Linked DNA regions of Homo sapiens: region 1 is linked to region 2. Evidence: fine-mapped expression QTL. Tissue or cell type: sun-exposed skin. Region 2 holds a variant in brackets; the other region holds the start of a gene. All regions are shown on one strand. Distances are between the middles of the regions.

Evidence for each region. PIP is the estimated chance that this variant, and not a neighbour inherited with it, causes the effect.
Region 1: it holds the start of DMTN, and the variant in region 2 is fine-mapped to the expression of DMTN in sun-exposed skin (GTEx, PIP 0.98).

Annotation. Positions count from the first base shown.
Region 1 is chr8:22,053,325-22,060,927 of GRCh38, forward strand. It overlaps DMTN (dematin actin binding protein), which reads left to right and starts at 3,490. Exons shown (of 16, transcript NM_001387751.1): 1 at 3,490-3,812. RefSeq lists enhancers at 4,608-5,569, 6,533-7,494.
Region 2 is chr8:22,101,592-22,109,194 of GRCh38, forward strand. FHIP2B (FHF complex subunit HOOK interacting protein 2B) reads left to right here. Exons shown (of 17, transcript NM_022749.7): 14 at 117-260; 15 at 584-724; 16 at 937-1,037; 17 at 1,202-3,320. The coding sequence ends at 1,340. NUDT18 (nudix hydrolase 18) reads right to left here. Exons shown (of 3, transcript NM_024815.4): 1 at 7,548-7,603; 2 at 6,542-6,755; 3 at 5,287-6,304. The coding sequence ends at 5,709. Among named protein-coding and RNA genes, the nearest start is that of NUDT18, 4.0 kb to the right of the region's middle. RefSeq lists silencers at 2,706-2,853, 7,402-7,603, enhancers at 5,628-5,772, 6,169-6,942 and a cis regulatory region at 5,700. The variant A/AG (reference allele first, on the strand shown) is at 4,492.

The DNA.
Region 1 (7,603 bases), 48 kb before region 2:
GGCAGCAGAGTCCAATGCCCGGAGGCAGGGGCACATGGCTCCCAATCTCTGGTGAGAATGGTGGCTTTGGGGCCCTCATCCTTCCTTTTCTTCAGGTCTCTGTCACCCTTTCCTTCCTCCCTGAGTGTCCAGGTGCCCTGGCTCCACCTCTCCCGAAGTTAATGTTTAGATAGCTCCCCCGCCCAGCAGGTTGGTGTGTAGGGTGGGGCCGGGGGGCACTGGAGTGAGACAGACCAGACGTGGACAGAGAAGCCTATCGACAGGGCCTGGGGGAGGGAGGAGGCAGCAGGGCCGGAGTCCACCCAGGACATCTGGCACCAGTGACCTTGTGGGGAAAGGAGCCAAGAACGGGGCGTCGGGGGGCCTGGGACCCCCCTGCCTGAGAGATACAGGAATCCTGGCCCCGTGTTGTGGACACAAGCGCCCATCCTCAAGGTCCTGAGAACTCCTGAACTTCCAAAGGTATGAGAGCCCTGGCAGCCGCCTCCTGCCTGCTCAGTATGGAGCAGAGCTGAGGAAGCCCACCCGCCTGGGGCCTGAGCCAACAGGCACCTGTTGTTCAGTGTTGCCAGCTTTCAAGGGGGAGAATCTCCCCTCTCAGACAAGCCATGGGGGAGTTCAGTTCAGCTGGCCTTGAGAGGTCAGAGGCCTTCCCAGGGGGAGGAGGCCGGAGGCAGAGTGAGTCTTCCCATGGGACAAGGACAGTGACGAGGTAGGGTCAGAGGATGGCATGGGTGAGAAGGGTCCCCTTGCCTCCCCTCTGAACGCCCACCACCAATACACACACACACACACACACAGACACACACACACAGCCCAGATCCCTGGCAGCAAAATGACCTTGGCAGCTACCACTCCTCAGGTCGACAGAGGGAGCCCTCACTCTGCAGTCCCCTTGGGTCCAGGCCTGGCTGGGCTGAGCACTCTTCCTGCCCAAGGTGGCCCGCCCGCCCCACCCATGGAGGGACATTCCGATAGAATGTGAGACTCAGGCATGGTGGGGGACAGTGGGAATGGGGCCTTGAGGAATTGGAAGAGAGCTGTCCCTTGCTCTGAGTTTTCTCAGGTGGAATGAGAGAGGGTTTGGGACCAGGTGAAGGTGCTCACAGAGACGGCAGAGGTGTGGGGCCCGCAGCCGCGTGCCCAGTGCAGCCAGCGCCCAGGGGCCTCTGAACCCTGCCGGAGCAACCCCTCTGGCCCTTCAGCACAAGGACTGTCCCTGCCTTGCTGCCTGTCATTGTCCCGAGCTCCACACTGGGCTTCCTGGAGTGGGGACTCTCCCCAGTGCTGCATACTCTTCAAGACTGGCCTGCTCTCCAGCCCTGAATTAGGGTTCTCCTGGGGTCACCCCTAAAGCCAATTCTAGAGCCTTATGAAAGGAAGTGGGGGGATGGGGTACTTGGTGGGGTTCACTGGGCACCCTAGCTCCTGAAGCTGTCCCCTAACCCCCAGCCCCAGCACTGAGGACCCACCCTCAGGCCCCCTCCCTCCATCTCTGAGGAAGAGGCAGCGGGAGGCACAGCTTCCTCCTCCCCCCCTCCCTGCTGCCGCGGCTGAGCCGGGCCTGAGCTGCCGGCAGGTTGTCTTGGCAACAGGAGGTGGAGAGGAGATGCGCCGAGGGATGGAGGTGTATGTCACCGAGGAGGCTGCTGCGCTCCTGCCCCACGCCCTGGGCCCTTGAAGGTACCGAGCACCCTCCCCTCCTTCTCCCCTCCGCCCTTTCCCCTTGACTCCCCCTACTCTGCCCTACATGCACTGGCTTCAATAGGAGGAGGCACCCCTCCTCCCAGGCCCAGCGATTCTACCCATTCCTCATCACCCACCTCGTTCCAGGCCCCTGGCCACAGCTGTCCTTCCTGGCATCAGCTCATTCCAACTCTACCTCTGGGGACCCTTGCACCAGAAGACAGCTCTCCTGGGGTGGGGCCTGGTGGGGGAGGGGCAATACAGGGGAGGAACCCAGGTCGGGGTGCGGCGGGGATCAGGAATTCTAAAGGGCTGAGGTGTCAAAGCCCCAAGTACCTGGTCCGCTGGAGGGACCGAGAGAGATCATCTAGGGCTGGAGTGGGGCTGGGGCTTCCCCTCTGTCTCTCAGACTCTGATTAGAGGGAAGTAAGGGTGGGGTTGAAGGTACAGAAAGCCGAGAGGCTGGGCTGAGGCCGGGCTGGTTGTGGAGCGATGGCTGGAGTGGCTCCTCCTCCAAGGCTGTGCCCCTTTCTGCCACATTGAAGGTATGCCCCCTCCCACATCACTCTCCTGGCCTTTTTCTCTGCAGTTCCATGGATCTGATGCTTCATCCCCCACCCCCAGGTTTTCTCTACCTTCACAGCCACCCCCGCCTGGCTGCAGCAGCTCAGCCTGTGTTCTGTCTCCCTTCTCAGCCACCTGCCTCCTTCCTTCCTCCCTTCTCTCTGGAGCCCATCCCTCAGGTTACTGTCCTCTCTGTCCCCACCAGCCAGATACTTTCTGTCCCCTCCTGGCCTCTTCCCTCAAGCCCCTCCCCCTGTGCTTCTCCATTCAGACACCCCAGAGCCCCCTCCCCAGATTCTAGATTTCCCCAACAACAGCTGATACCATCAGCTGACCGGCTGGGGGCAGGGTTGCCAGGGCAACGGTGAGGGCTGCCTAGGTAGGCAAGTCTGCGGTGTGGAGGTGGAGAGGACATTGGGGCCAGGGCGAGGGTCGAGGGCAAGGCTTGTTGTCCTTCCCCATCCTGCCCAGGGGGCCCGAAAGGCCAATGAGAGGCTCCTGGGGTGGTTGAGGCTTTGCTAGAGACAGGGAAGGCACATGCCTGTAAATTCTGTGCTGGGACCCAGGGGTTACCAGGCAGGAAGCTCCTTTTTCATGAAGCCACCCTAGGGAGAGATGGGGTCCTTCTCTCTCTCTGCTGCATCCCATTGGAGTTCCCAGGGGATTCAGGTTACTGAGGGGCCAGCTCAAGTCTCAGTACTGAGGACCTGGTTGCATCCCTCCATTCTACCCTCCCAGGAGAGAGCTCATCCTTGGGTAACCAATTCTGGCCTGTGCCTGCACCCCCACCTCAAGAGGCTGGGCCCCAGAGGCCTCAGTTGCTGCTGTCAGATGGTGGGGTGGTCATGAATAGGGTAGGAGGTGCAGGTGCCTGGAGAAAGCAGGCATTGTCCGCCTGGGTCATCAGTAGCCCCCTCCCTCGACCCACCGCCCACAGCAACTTGAACTCTGGCTGTTTAGGAGGAGGCTGAGGGGCTCTGGGTGCGTGTGGGTGTGTGTGTGCGTGTGAGTGCTGCAGACTGCGGTGTGGGAAAGGGAGAGGACAGTGCTGGCTGATTCTGCTTTGTCATGACGCTGGGTTAATGCTCCTCTTGTTTGAAATGGATTGAGCTGCAGCGCTGGTGGAAGAGCGCGCACATCCACACACACACCCTTGCCAGCCACACGCTATCAGCTGGAAGTGGGGAGGGCGCGGGGAGGGCGTGGGGGAGCCAGCAGCCCGCCCGCCCTCCCGCCCCCAGACGAGGACTCCCCAGCACCGGGGGATCCAGGCGGCCGTGCGTTGCAGAGAAGCAGGGTGGGGGCAAGGAGGGTGGGGGCCCAGAGGGGAGATCAGACCGCTCAGCCGAGACCAGCTCCCCTCCTTCGCCAGCTCCCACCCCGCCCACCCACCCTAAGCCGGCATTTTTCCTGTTATTTGTGCTCCGGGGAAGCGCCGCGGGGTTCCTGGAAGAGACACCTATTACCTAGGCTCCTGGGGGAAGTGACAGCCCGTGGATCTGGCCTACGCCTCTCGGGCCTCTGTGGCCTCAGAGCGTCTGGGCCACACTGTCTGGGAAGAGGTAGGTGGCAGGGTCTCCGCCTCTCCTCCCCTCTGTGGGCACTCTGGGCCACAGCGCTTGCTGGCGAGCCAGGCTTTGGGTGGCAGCAGGGTATCTGGGGGGAGCCCACTGTGGGCCCTGTTCAGTGGGAGGATGGGCCGGCCCCTGGGACCAGCTGGGCCTGATCTAATGGAACCTTCTGATCTGGGGAAGAGGGCCTGGGGTGTTCTCATCCCAAGGATGAGAACTGCTCCCAGCCCAATCCCCTCTTTGCCAGCATCTCTGCCTGGCCTACCTAGCTGAGCAGGCCAGCAATGGAAGGGATGGACTGTGGGGGCACGGGGTGGGCAGGGGAGCATTCCCTCTCTGCTGAATACTGGCCCGCTGGCCTCCCCAAAACCACTCCACATGCTCTGGGGGTTGGAGCAGTACATTTAGGGGCCTGAGGCTGTTTGTTTGGAGCCTGCTTTTTAGGGGGAGTGGGAGGAGAGCCTGCCCCCAGCCAGTGGCTGGCCAGGCTGGGGTGGGGCTGAGTGAAGAGTGAGGCTGTGGCAGGGCGCAGCTGCAAGCCCAAGCCCAGTACTCCCCCTGTGCCCGCCGCTGGGGTGCTTGAAGGGGCCAGGGCTGAGCAGACATGCAGCCCCCACAGGGTTCTGGGGCTCCCCCTCCCTAGCTCTGTCCCTCAGGGCCTAGCAGGTCCAGCCCCCTTTCTTGGGCAGACACACCCAGTGTGTCCCTTCCAGGGACCAGTTGCCTGGTTGTGAGAGTCAGGGGAGCAGGGACAGGTCCAAGACAAGGAAGGCAGTTGGGCTGTGGGAATGGGGAGCCCAGGGAAGGCCTCCAGAGCTGGGTAAGTGGAGGGCTCTGTGTATGTTGCTGTACACGTGCACTACTCTGGGATGGATGCCAGGGAGAGGACCGGTGGGTGGGTGTGAGCGGGTGTTGGCAGCACCATGTGTCACAGTGAGGGGGCCTCGATGGGAGAGTGGGGGCATGAGCTGGCACACAGGGCTTCGGAGTCTCCCCGCGTGCATGCGTCCTGCAACGGTTTCAGCGCGGGCGCTTCTGCCTGTGCCCACCTGTCCATCTTGTGTCCGTGCTGCCGGCCTCTCTGTGGTCAGGCGTTAGACTCCTGGGTGAGGTTGTCCACCCGTGGGTGGATGTCTGCAGAATCCCTCTCCTAGAGCTCCTGGGTGTTGTGGGACTGGAACAGGGAGGCCCTGGGATCCAGAAAGCTGAATTGAGGCTGCATCTCCCCCAGCTCTGCCAGTCCCACTTGTACAACAGGACCAGCTATAAATGGAGGGGAAGCAGTCCGCCTGAGGGGGCTGCAGGATGCAGAAAGCAGAAAGCGGGGTCTCTTCAGAGGGTGGGTGGAGAGGGCACATAGAAACCAAACCAGAGAGAGACCTAGGAGAAGATGGCTGCACAGATGCGTCTCTGGGTGGGCTAGAGAGGCAGGAGGGGGCACCTGGGCCCGGTTTTGTTGTTATTGAGAGAACAAGGGAGGGCAGGCCTTGAGCAGGGGGACTCTGGGCTCCCCACCCACCCAGGCCTGGTCCTTTATCCGAGTATGAGAGGGTGCCCTGTAGTGCTGGGTTAGGGGAACCCTCATCCCAGCAGACACAACGGTAAAAAACATTGGAGTAGGGGAGAGGGAGAAAGTGGGAGAAGAGGAGGGAGTCCCCAGGCTCTGCCAGCCTTAGGACAGACTTGGAGTTCAGGCTTCGCCTAAGTAAGGGACACCTCTGATGAGCCACTGGCCCAGAGCAGGCCTCAGCCTCCTGGTGTCCTTTTCCAGTGGCGGGGGGGTGCGGGGAGCAAGGTGCCCTACCCCACCCACATCACACGCATGCACAGCACCCATGGGAGCGCCTGGCCCCTGCCCTGCAGCGCCGCACTGCTCCACCCTCCCTGCCCCTCCCCACCCAGGATGCTGTTTTGGGAACTGGTGACCTAGCTGGATTCTGCCTTTATTTCTGGCATTGAATTGTTGCCACAGTAACTGCGGGGGTGGGGCTGGGTAGGGGAGAGGGTGAAAGGGAAAGAGGGAGGGAGGGAGAAAAGATGAAGAAAGCCAAGAAAAGGGACCAGAAGAGAAAGCAGAAAGACAGGAGGAAGAAAGGGAGAGAGGGCCAGGCAGTCGCACTGTGAACAGAACAGGAGAAGGCGAAGCGGGGCAAAGTTCCCTGCCCACCGACGCCAGCCTGCTTGGATGACTTGCCTCGTTTCATAATTCACTTACTGTCTGCACCAGCCGGCCTCCAGCCTGGCTGGACCCTGCTGCCTGTGTGGCCCGGAGCCAGAGGCCCCCACACTCCCAGCTGCTCTTCTACAGATGCCATCAACGAGCAGGACTCTGGGTGGCTCCACTGTCTAAGGTTAGCACGTGGGACCCCCAAGTCCCACATTTTGATTGAACTGGGATCTTTGGTACTCATTGAAAAGAGCACTTGGCTTTGGCCTCAGGCAGGCCGGGGTAGGGATTCTGGCTTGGCTTCTATTTGGGGGGCCTTCGGCAAGTTCACCTCTCAGCTTCATTTTTGCTCATCTCTAAATGAGGAGAATGTCGTTTTGTGTGAGGTTTAGAGACGATGTATGAAAGTCCCAAGTATACAGGGGCTGCCACCAAGCAGGTAGTGGTTGGCTGGAAACAGGAGCACAGCTAGACCAGGGGCCCTCCACCCCGAAGTTGCCATTCTGCCTGCGGAGGCTTCATTTCTAAAAGTCCAGGGGAGCCACAGTCTGGATCAGTTTCTGCCTGGAAGAAGAGCGCGCCAGGATGAGTGGGCACAAACTCGGAGGGCCCAGTGGGCGGGTCTTATCACCCACATCCTGGGGAGCTGTGGAGAGGAGAGGGTGGTGGGTGAGGTGGGGCTGGGCTGGTGGCTCAGATAAGGCAGGGACACACAGCTGGGGGAGGGTGGGGCTGAGATGGAGGGCGAGCGGCTGGCTGGCGTCCGACCAGGGCCAGGGGCAGCTGAGCTGTCCCTTCCGTCACCTGGACCTGCCTTCCTCTGTGGTGCTCTCTCTTCCTCCCTCCCTCCCCTCTTCCTGCTGCAGCTCGCCCTTTCTATCTCTTTGTGCACGGAGGTCGCTGGGACCTTGGGGATGCAGGCACAGACAGGCGGGGTGCATGGATGGGAGAGGGGTCTGGATGGGAGGAGGTGGAGTGAGCTGGCACTTGACCTGCGAGAAATGAGCTTTGATGGAAAGGGCTACTTGTGGGTGGAGTAGGCAGGGTGTGATTTGAGAGAAGCCAAGGAAACTCTCTCTCTCTTTCTCTCTTTCTGTCTCGCTCTCTCTCTCTCTCTCTCCCCCTCACACATGCGCACGCACACACACATATACACACACTCTTCTCCACCCCCATTTTCCCGGCTGGCCTTCTGACAGCTTAAAATTTAACCAGTACAAACATTATGCCTTAAGGCTAGGCCCACGTTTACGTGCAAATGCCCCACAAGGGGTAAGACAAAATTTCTGCCTCTGTGGAAATAATTTATCAACCAACATGCTCTCTAACAAATGGCAGGGGGTGGCACCAGGGTGCAGGGCCCTGGCTGACCCCAGGAAGCAGACCCAGATGCTAAAGCGCAAGACCCAGCAGTGGGGTTGTGGGCAGGAAGGGACTGGAGACAGAGCAGAGGTGAGAGGCCAGAGGCTTAGTGACTCACACCAGCTTTGCCTGGGTAGTATCCTGGTGAATGGTTTTAGAAATCAGACAGACCTGAGCTTAGATTCCACACAATACTGTGTCCTTGACCAACTACTTAACTTGTTCAAGTCTCAACTTCTTCATGTGCAAACGA
Region 2 (7,603 bases):
CTGGGTTCCGCCTCTCTCATCTGCCCAAGGACCCCAGCCCATCCCTCCTGCGTGGGGCCCTGTCTGCTGGTTCCCAGTCCCCAGGCCCACTGCCTCTACTTTCCCGCCTGTCTCAGTTCCAGGAGTGCAGCTCCCGCGTCGCCTCCTGGGGCTGGCCTCTGACCCCCACACCTTTGGACCCCCATGAGCCCGAGCGACCTTTCTTCGAGGGCCACTTCCTCCGAGTGCTGTTTGACCGCATGTCCCGGATTCTGGATCAGGTAGCTAGTGGGCCTGGGCCAGGAGAACTCCAGGCTGGTGCCTCTGGGGTCCTTCAAGAGCAGAGGTTGGCCACAGGGTTGCCTCTGCTTCGGTTCTTTGGTGCCACCCCTGTCCTTTCCCCAGGTGGGAAGCCCCGTCTCACCCCTGCTCCACACGTCCTAACACGTTCTGGCCCTCAGCCCCATGGAATCCATGACACACACACATCACGTGAGCCTCCCACCCCCACACACGTTCACAGTGGCCAGGCACCTTGCTGGGGGAGTGCAAAAATACTCACCAGCCCTGCCAGCCCTCGGCTCTGTCCACCATGTTCCTACAGCCATACAGCCTGAACCTGCAGGTGACCTCGGTCCTGTCCCGGCTTGCCCTCTTCCCCCACCCCCATATTCATGAGTACCTGCTGGATCCGTACATCAGCCTGGCCCCCGGCTGCAGGAGCCTATTCTCCGTGTTGGTGAGGGTGAGGACGCCTCGGCCCAAGGGAGTGTGCCTAGTGAGGTGGAGGGGACATCAGGGAAAGGGAACGGGGCAGGTGGTTGGGGGCTGGAGGGGTGGGCACCCTTGCCAGTGCCAGGGAAAGCACAGTCTCCCATGCTCTGCATGGTGTGGCAGGGCCAGGGGACTCACTGGTGTTGCTGGCCCCATCTGAGTCCCCTGTGATTCCCGCTGTAGGTGATCGGGGACTTGATGCAGAGAATCCAGAGGGTACCCCAGTTCCCAGGCAAGCTGCTCCTGGTGCGCAAGCAGTTGACGGGCCAGGCTCCTGGGGAGCAGTGAGTACCAAGGGTGCCAGGTGAAGCCTTGGGGTGGGAGAGTGGAAAGCGCCTCTGGAGGAGAGGTGGCTGGCCACAGGGTCAAGCCTCGTGGATGCTGGGCTGTCATGCTGGGCACAGTCCTGCCCCCACCCAGCCATGCCCCCTGTGCCATCTCCCCTCAGGCTGGACCACCAGACCCTCCTCCAGGGCGTGGTGGTGCTGGAGGAGTTCTGCAAGGAGCTGGCTGCCATTGCCTTCGTCAAGTTTCCCCCACATGATCCTCGCCAGAACGTCTCCCCAGCCCCGGAAGGGCAGGTCTGAGCCAGCACCAGGGCGGTGGGAGACTCCTGTCCACACCTCTGCCCCAGAGCTGCCTCCTGCCTGGCACTGCCGCCACACTCCCCTCCTGGGATGGGGCTTCTGCTCCCGGGCTCACTCAAGGAGACTGCGGCATGTTGACCACACCAGACTGGGTTTCAGGGAATGGGCATGCCAGGTGCCAAGGAGCCAAACAGATGGCTTTCCAGGCAGCAAGGTCCTTGGGGCCTTCTTGGAGGAGCTTGGGTGACAGCCAGGTGAGCACCCAGACCCCAGACCCTCATGTGCTGTGTGCCTGGCCCCTTCTGTACTGGCCATTTGTGGCCAGGGCCAAGCCTGTGACTCAACTCCAGGGGCAAGATGGGGAGTGAGCTGATGGCTCCGAGACTGGTCAGGAGCCCAGGCCAGTGAGATGGGGCCTGGAGCCTTGTCTGTGTCACATTAGGTACCATGGGAGCTGCTGAGACCTGACATTTTGTCCCCTGCCTACATGGCTTGGCCCATGGAGAAGGAGCAGTGAATGGGATCGTCGGGGAAGCCCCTCTTCCTGCTCTGCTCCCCTGGAAACTGTTGCAAAACTCCCAGCCGCCTCATGGCAAATGCCCAAAGCATGTTCCGCACCCAGGCGGGGGCCCCTGCTAATGAGAACCTTGGTGCAGCTGCAGCCAGGAGGGGAGCGGGCCCAGGAGCCAGGCTCAGGTCCAGCTGGTTCCTCTCTGGCGCCTTCTGAACCCGTCTCAGCAGGTCCACAGCACCTGGGCAGAGGTCAGAGACCAGGGGAGGCCGGGCCTTGCCCTCCCTTCTGCCCAGGGCCCAGTGTTCTTGATAGAAGACCCTTCTGGGGAGCCAGGGAGCTCAGGGGACAGATAAGGGAAGGACGCCCCCTGACTCCAGGCCCCTGAGCCTGGCGGGAAGTGGCTGCGGCCCAGGCAGCCAGTCCTGGTGGTGTTCTCCCTGCATGCCCTCCGTGGCTGGGCTGCCACCCCACCCGGCCCGAATCTGTCTTGACCTGCAGGAATACACGGGCGGCGCCAGGCATTACCTCACAGCGGGACTACACAGTTGCTGGCTTTGCTCCTGGGCAAGGAGGAGCAGGCCAGAGCCTCTTTTGCTTCCTTTTCTTGCCCATGCCGCTTCTAGAAGCCAGGCACAGGTTGCCAAGAGGTGACACGAAACAGGAGGAAACTCAGTGACCTCTGCCTCTCCCACATTCCTCCCCGCGGGGGAGGACCTCGCCGCTCTGAAGAGCACCGTGCACATGTGGGTGCACAAACGTGGGTGTTGGTGTGGACGGGGCGCAGATCTCCGTGGATGAACTGCGTCTGGACTCTTAGATTCATAAAATATTCGAGGGTTTGGGAGTCACAGACCCTCCCCTCTCCTCAGTGCACTTTGGCATTTGCACGGTGTCTTCCCCGGACAGCACAGCAATAAATGGTGTGATTGCGTGGACACCGTGGCTCTGTTCTTGGCCAAGTTTCCCCACCTTCTGCCCAGGACTCCACTGCTAATTCGGGCCCATCTTCCTCCCCAAGGAAGACAAATTCTTTTTCTAGCGCTGCAGCAGGGAGGTGGGGTGGGCGGTAAACAGACAGGCTCTGGCAGTGCAGATCTGCTGATCCTCAGCGCCTGCCAGGAGCCAGACTCTTGGCGGAGCAGTGCCACTTCTGCTGGGCTGACCTGCAGCGGAGAGTCTGCCCACCCCGGAGACACCATGAGGGAATGGACCACGTGGGAGCATCTGTGTGCAAGTCTCATTTGGGTGTGTTTATGCTGCGTGTTGTATGCCTGTTTTAGTCATAAAGTAGGCCTGATATTTAAAACCTTGTCTTTAAGTTCAAGGCTGCAGTGAGCCGATTGCACCACTGCACTCCAGCCTGGGCAATAGAGTAAGACCCTGTCTAAAAAAAAAAAAAAAAAATTTCACAGGTGTGTTCTCAGGGAAAAAGAAAAGTTAACACATAAATAAACCCTTTGTCCTCAGATGTGTGTGGAGGGGTGGGGGATCCTCTGAGGGGGGTCCCCAAGAGACTGCGGGAGGGCAGGCTGAGAACGTGGAGGAAAAGGAGCCAGATGTTGGCTCTCAACTCGTGTTGATCACTGGGTGGCTTTTTAAAATCCCAATGCCCAGTGCCCCATCACCAGTTAAATTATTGTTGCTGGGGGTACACCCAGAGTTCAAGCTCTCCAGGTGGTTGTGCATGGTGGCTCACGCCTATAATCCTAGTACCTTGGGAGGCTGAGGCGGGAGGATCACTTGAGGACAGAAGTTCAAGACCAGCCTTGGCAACATAGTGAGAACCCCATCTCTACTAAAAGCTTAAAAATGCGCCTGTGGTTCCAGCTACTTGGGAGGCTGAGGCAGGAGAATCACTTGTCACTTGAGCCTGGGAGGTCAAGGCTGCAGTGAGCCAGGATCACACCACTCCACTCCAGCCTGGGTGACAGAGCAAGACCCTGTTTGAGGGAAAAAAAAAAAAACCCAGGTGACCCTAACGTGTGCCCAGGGTTGGAAACTACTAGGCTAAATAATGGGGGCAAATAGCCAAATGTCATTGCCCGGCTGACTGGATATGGGCCAGTGGGTCCCTTAGACACTGAGAGAAGTGAACTGAAACAAAGGGGTTTGGTTCCATCATTTGTGAGGTATTTGTCCTCAGAGGGTACAAGGATTCCTACCACCCTCCAGGGCCCAGAAAGGAGGGCAGCCAAGAGAGGCAGGGAGGGGGCTGGGAAAGGGGCCTTGGAGGTCATCTTGGCCCTCAGAAGGGGAGCCTGTGCTAGTGTTTCCTTGCTCAGAATCAGAAATCTCTACCGTAGAACACTTGATATATTTTATTTGTTCATTTCCTTTGATTTTGCTTAAATTTCAGTAAAGTTCTTTTTTTCCTCTTTCTTTTCTTTTTTCTTTTGAGAGAGGGTCTTGCTGTCTCACCCAGACTGGAGTGCAGTGGCCTGAGCATGGCTCACTGCAGCCTCAACCTCCCGGGCTCAAGCCATCCTCCTGCCTCAGCCTCCTGAATAGCTGGGATTTACAGGTGTGCACCACCTTGCCTGGCCTTTTTTTTTTCCTGTAGACACAGGGTCTCACTATGTTGCCCAGGCTGGCTTCAAACTCTGGCCTTCAAGCGATCCTCCTGCCTCAGCCTCCCAA[A/AG]GCACTGGGGTTAAAGGTGTGAGCCACCGTGCCTGGCCAAAGTTCTTTTTTTTTTTTTTTTTTTTTCAGACGAAGTCTATCACCCAGGCTGGAGCTCGGCTCACTGCAACCTTTGCCTCCGGGGTTCAAGCGATTCTCCTGCCTCAGCCTCCTAAGTATCTGAGATTACAGGCATCTGCCAACATGCCCGGCTAGTTTTTTGTATTTTTAGTAGAGATGGGGTTTTGCCATGTTGGCCAGGCTGGTCTCGAACTCCCTGACCTCAAGTGATCCACCTGTGTCAGCCTACCAAAGTGTTGGGATTACAGGTGTGAGCCACTGTGCCCGGCCACTTAGCAAAAAAAAAAAAAAAAAAAAAAAAAAATCCTACCATGATTCAGCGAGGCTGAGGGGAAATGAAGAAAAGGTTTGGTCTGGCATGGGCTGAAGTTGTGAAAAGGCAGAGGCAGGAGAGCCAGGGGGAGTGGTCTGCGCCAGGGAGGCTCAAGGAGAGAGCAGAGGCAGCACCTGCAGCTCCTGTCCCACTTGAAGTTCCTCTGGGGCCGCCCACTGCCCAACCCTTGGAGGGCTCAGAGCTGTGTTTCATTAGGGATGGGTCCCCTCAGAGTCACATCCCGGGCCAGCAGGCCAACTGGAGGGAGCCCCAGGGGCCGTGCTGGACAGCAGACTGGCCCGCACTGTCAGTGCACTGGGAAAGGCATGGGTGCCTGTGGGTAACACGAGGGGAGCAGCAGCTCCTGGACAGTAGTCCCCATCACTTTCTCCCCACAGAGACGTGTAGGCAGGGAGGCAAGGTGAGTAACACCTCTTTACTCAGCAACGTGCTCCTCCCTCGGGGGACCTTCCCCAGTGCCCCTCCATGCTCGAAGGGCCTGGAAGGATCAGAATGCAGGCCTTTCCCAAGGACGGCACAGAACGTGATGAGGAGATGCCACTGGGGGTGCAGAAAGCTCCCCATCCCCCTGGGAAGAGGCGTCAGCGTGCCCTCAGGGTAGTCAGGTCCTGAGCTTTGGACTCCTCGCTTGGTTAAAGGCACTGTCCCTTGTGCAATCTAGAGGAATGCTCCTCAAAGCATCTCTCCTGGGGACCAGGAGAGCCGCCCCTGCTCCCAATGCAACAAGATCCCTGATCGCCAGCCTCTTGCCTCCCTCAGAGGGAGACAAGTCCGCACTGGAGGGAGCACGGCTGCCTAGCTCCCTGTCACCTCCCCCACCTCTCTATCTGTTCACTGGGACAACAGAGGATCCCTGAAGCCGCTGGAGGAGCTGGCTTTGCAGGTCTTCCTCCATCACCTTCCACCAAGAGAAGTTCTCACCCCGAACTTTTGGGGGTTCATCCTGGATCCCTGGGCTCCGAAAAGCCACGGTCACCAGCACATTCAAACAGATGCCATCACTGTGATCTCGGCCCAGGTGCTGCAGTCCAAGCAACCCCTTGATCTCCACCACCAAGTGGTGCAGGGTCAGACACTCCTGCAGCAGCCGCAGGACGGCCATCTTCATGCCACCCCTCTGCTCCATAGGGTCGAGGCCACAGGCAGTGACAGGCAAGTGAGGCATCCCCACTGTGCCCACTAACACCCACACTGTCTGGGCGCTGGTAAAGGTAGCCACGAGCCGCTGGCAGACCAGATCACAGGGTAGCTCTTGGGGCAGAATGAGAGGGTGCCTGGCTTGCTGGCGATACTGGGCGGCTAGTTCAACCAGGTGCAGGATGTCATGGGCTCGCAGCGGAGTGGGCAGGGAGGTCCGTGGGTACCAGGCAGCCTGCAGGGACTCCGCATCGGCCTCCTTGGAAGTCTTGAGAATTCCACCTGGGGGAGATGTGGGGGATGGGGCAGGGAGGGTCTGTGTGGAGAGAAGTGCAGCTCTGGCAGAGTCAACAGACATCCCTGACCCAGGAGAGAGGCCCCCAGCCCAAAGGCTGGAATCTGCCCATGCCAGGCTGTGCCAGCCATAACAGGACTGGCTGTAGAGGGGCTCACCTCACCGAGGAGCTGGGGGAAAGGTGTCAACTGGCCCTGTTCACACTGCCTCCAGGTGGGCCATACCTGTGGGGCGAGCGAGGAACACGAAGCGGACCCAGGAGGGGCCCCGCTCCTCCACGGACAGCAGTGTCTCGGGCTCACAGTGCAGCCCCGCCTCCTCCTTCACCTCCCGCTGCAGCGCCTCCACGATGGTCTCCCCTGGCTCCATTCTCCCCGCAGGCAGGTACCACGACCCCCGGCACTCCCTCTTGGCCTCCTGGATCAGTAGCACCTCATCCTGAGAGGAGAGAGGATCCTCACTTCCTGCCACAGCCTTCCCTCGCCCCGGGACCAGGGGGCATCTCAAACACAGTCGCCCAAGACTCCCCTCTGGGTGGACACTCTCAACCCAGCTAGCGCTCCAGGAGACCTGCCCTCGTGTCGCTGGGGGCTGCAGCCCTCTCCTCTCTGCAATTCGTCTCTCTCTGGATTTAGGAAGACTTCCATTTCAGGAAGGGCTGAGATTCCTGGAAGCCGCTTCAGGGGCTGGAGATGAGGCCCCAGAGTGAGGGTCACCATGTGTCTGTCTGTCTTGGATTGATTTGCGTCTGTACCTGCCACTGTGTATCTCTCGCCTCCAACGGCGTGGTTTACAAACTGTGATGGGTCCTCACACTGGGGTCTGGCTTGAAACACGACCCCCACCTCCGCTCTGTACAACCCCGCCCTATGGCCCTGGCCCCGTCTAGTTGTCATTACATCGCCCACTACAGGCATCAGCACCAAAGGCCTGAAGGTAAGCCGGGATTGAGCCACTGCTATCTGAGGGGCCCTGGGCACTCCGCTAGACTCTGGGGAAGGGAAGGAATGAGGCCTAGTCGGATGAGACAAACAGGCCCCGGGCCTCAGTTTCCTCTTCTGCATATCGGGACGAACGCAGGACACAGATGCGAGTGGGAGTGGGAGTGCTTTGCAAAACTGGGAAGCGCCACGCACGCGGCAGCGCTGGCTGTGGCCGTTGGGTCTTCTGTCCCCACCTGGGCTGGCTGCGCGCTCCCGAGGCCCGGCGGGCCCGGGGGCGGCCGCTCACCTGCTCGCTGAGGAACACGGCCAGCACCACGTAGCACACGTTCTTCCGCAGCCGCA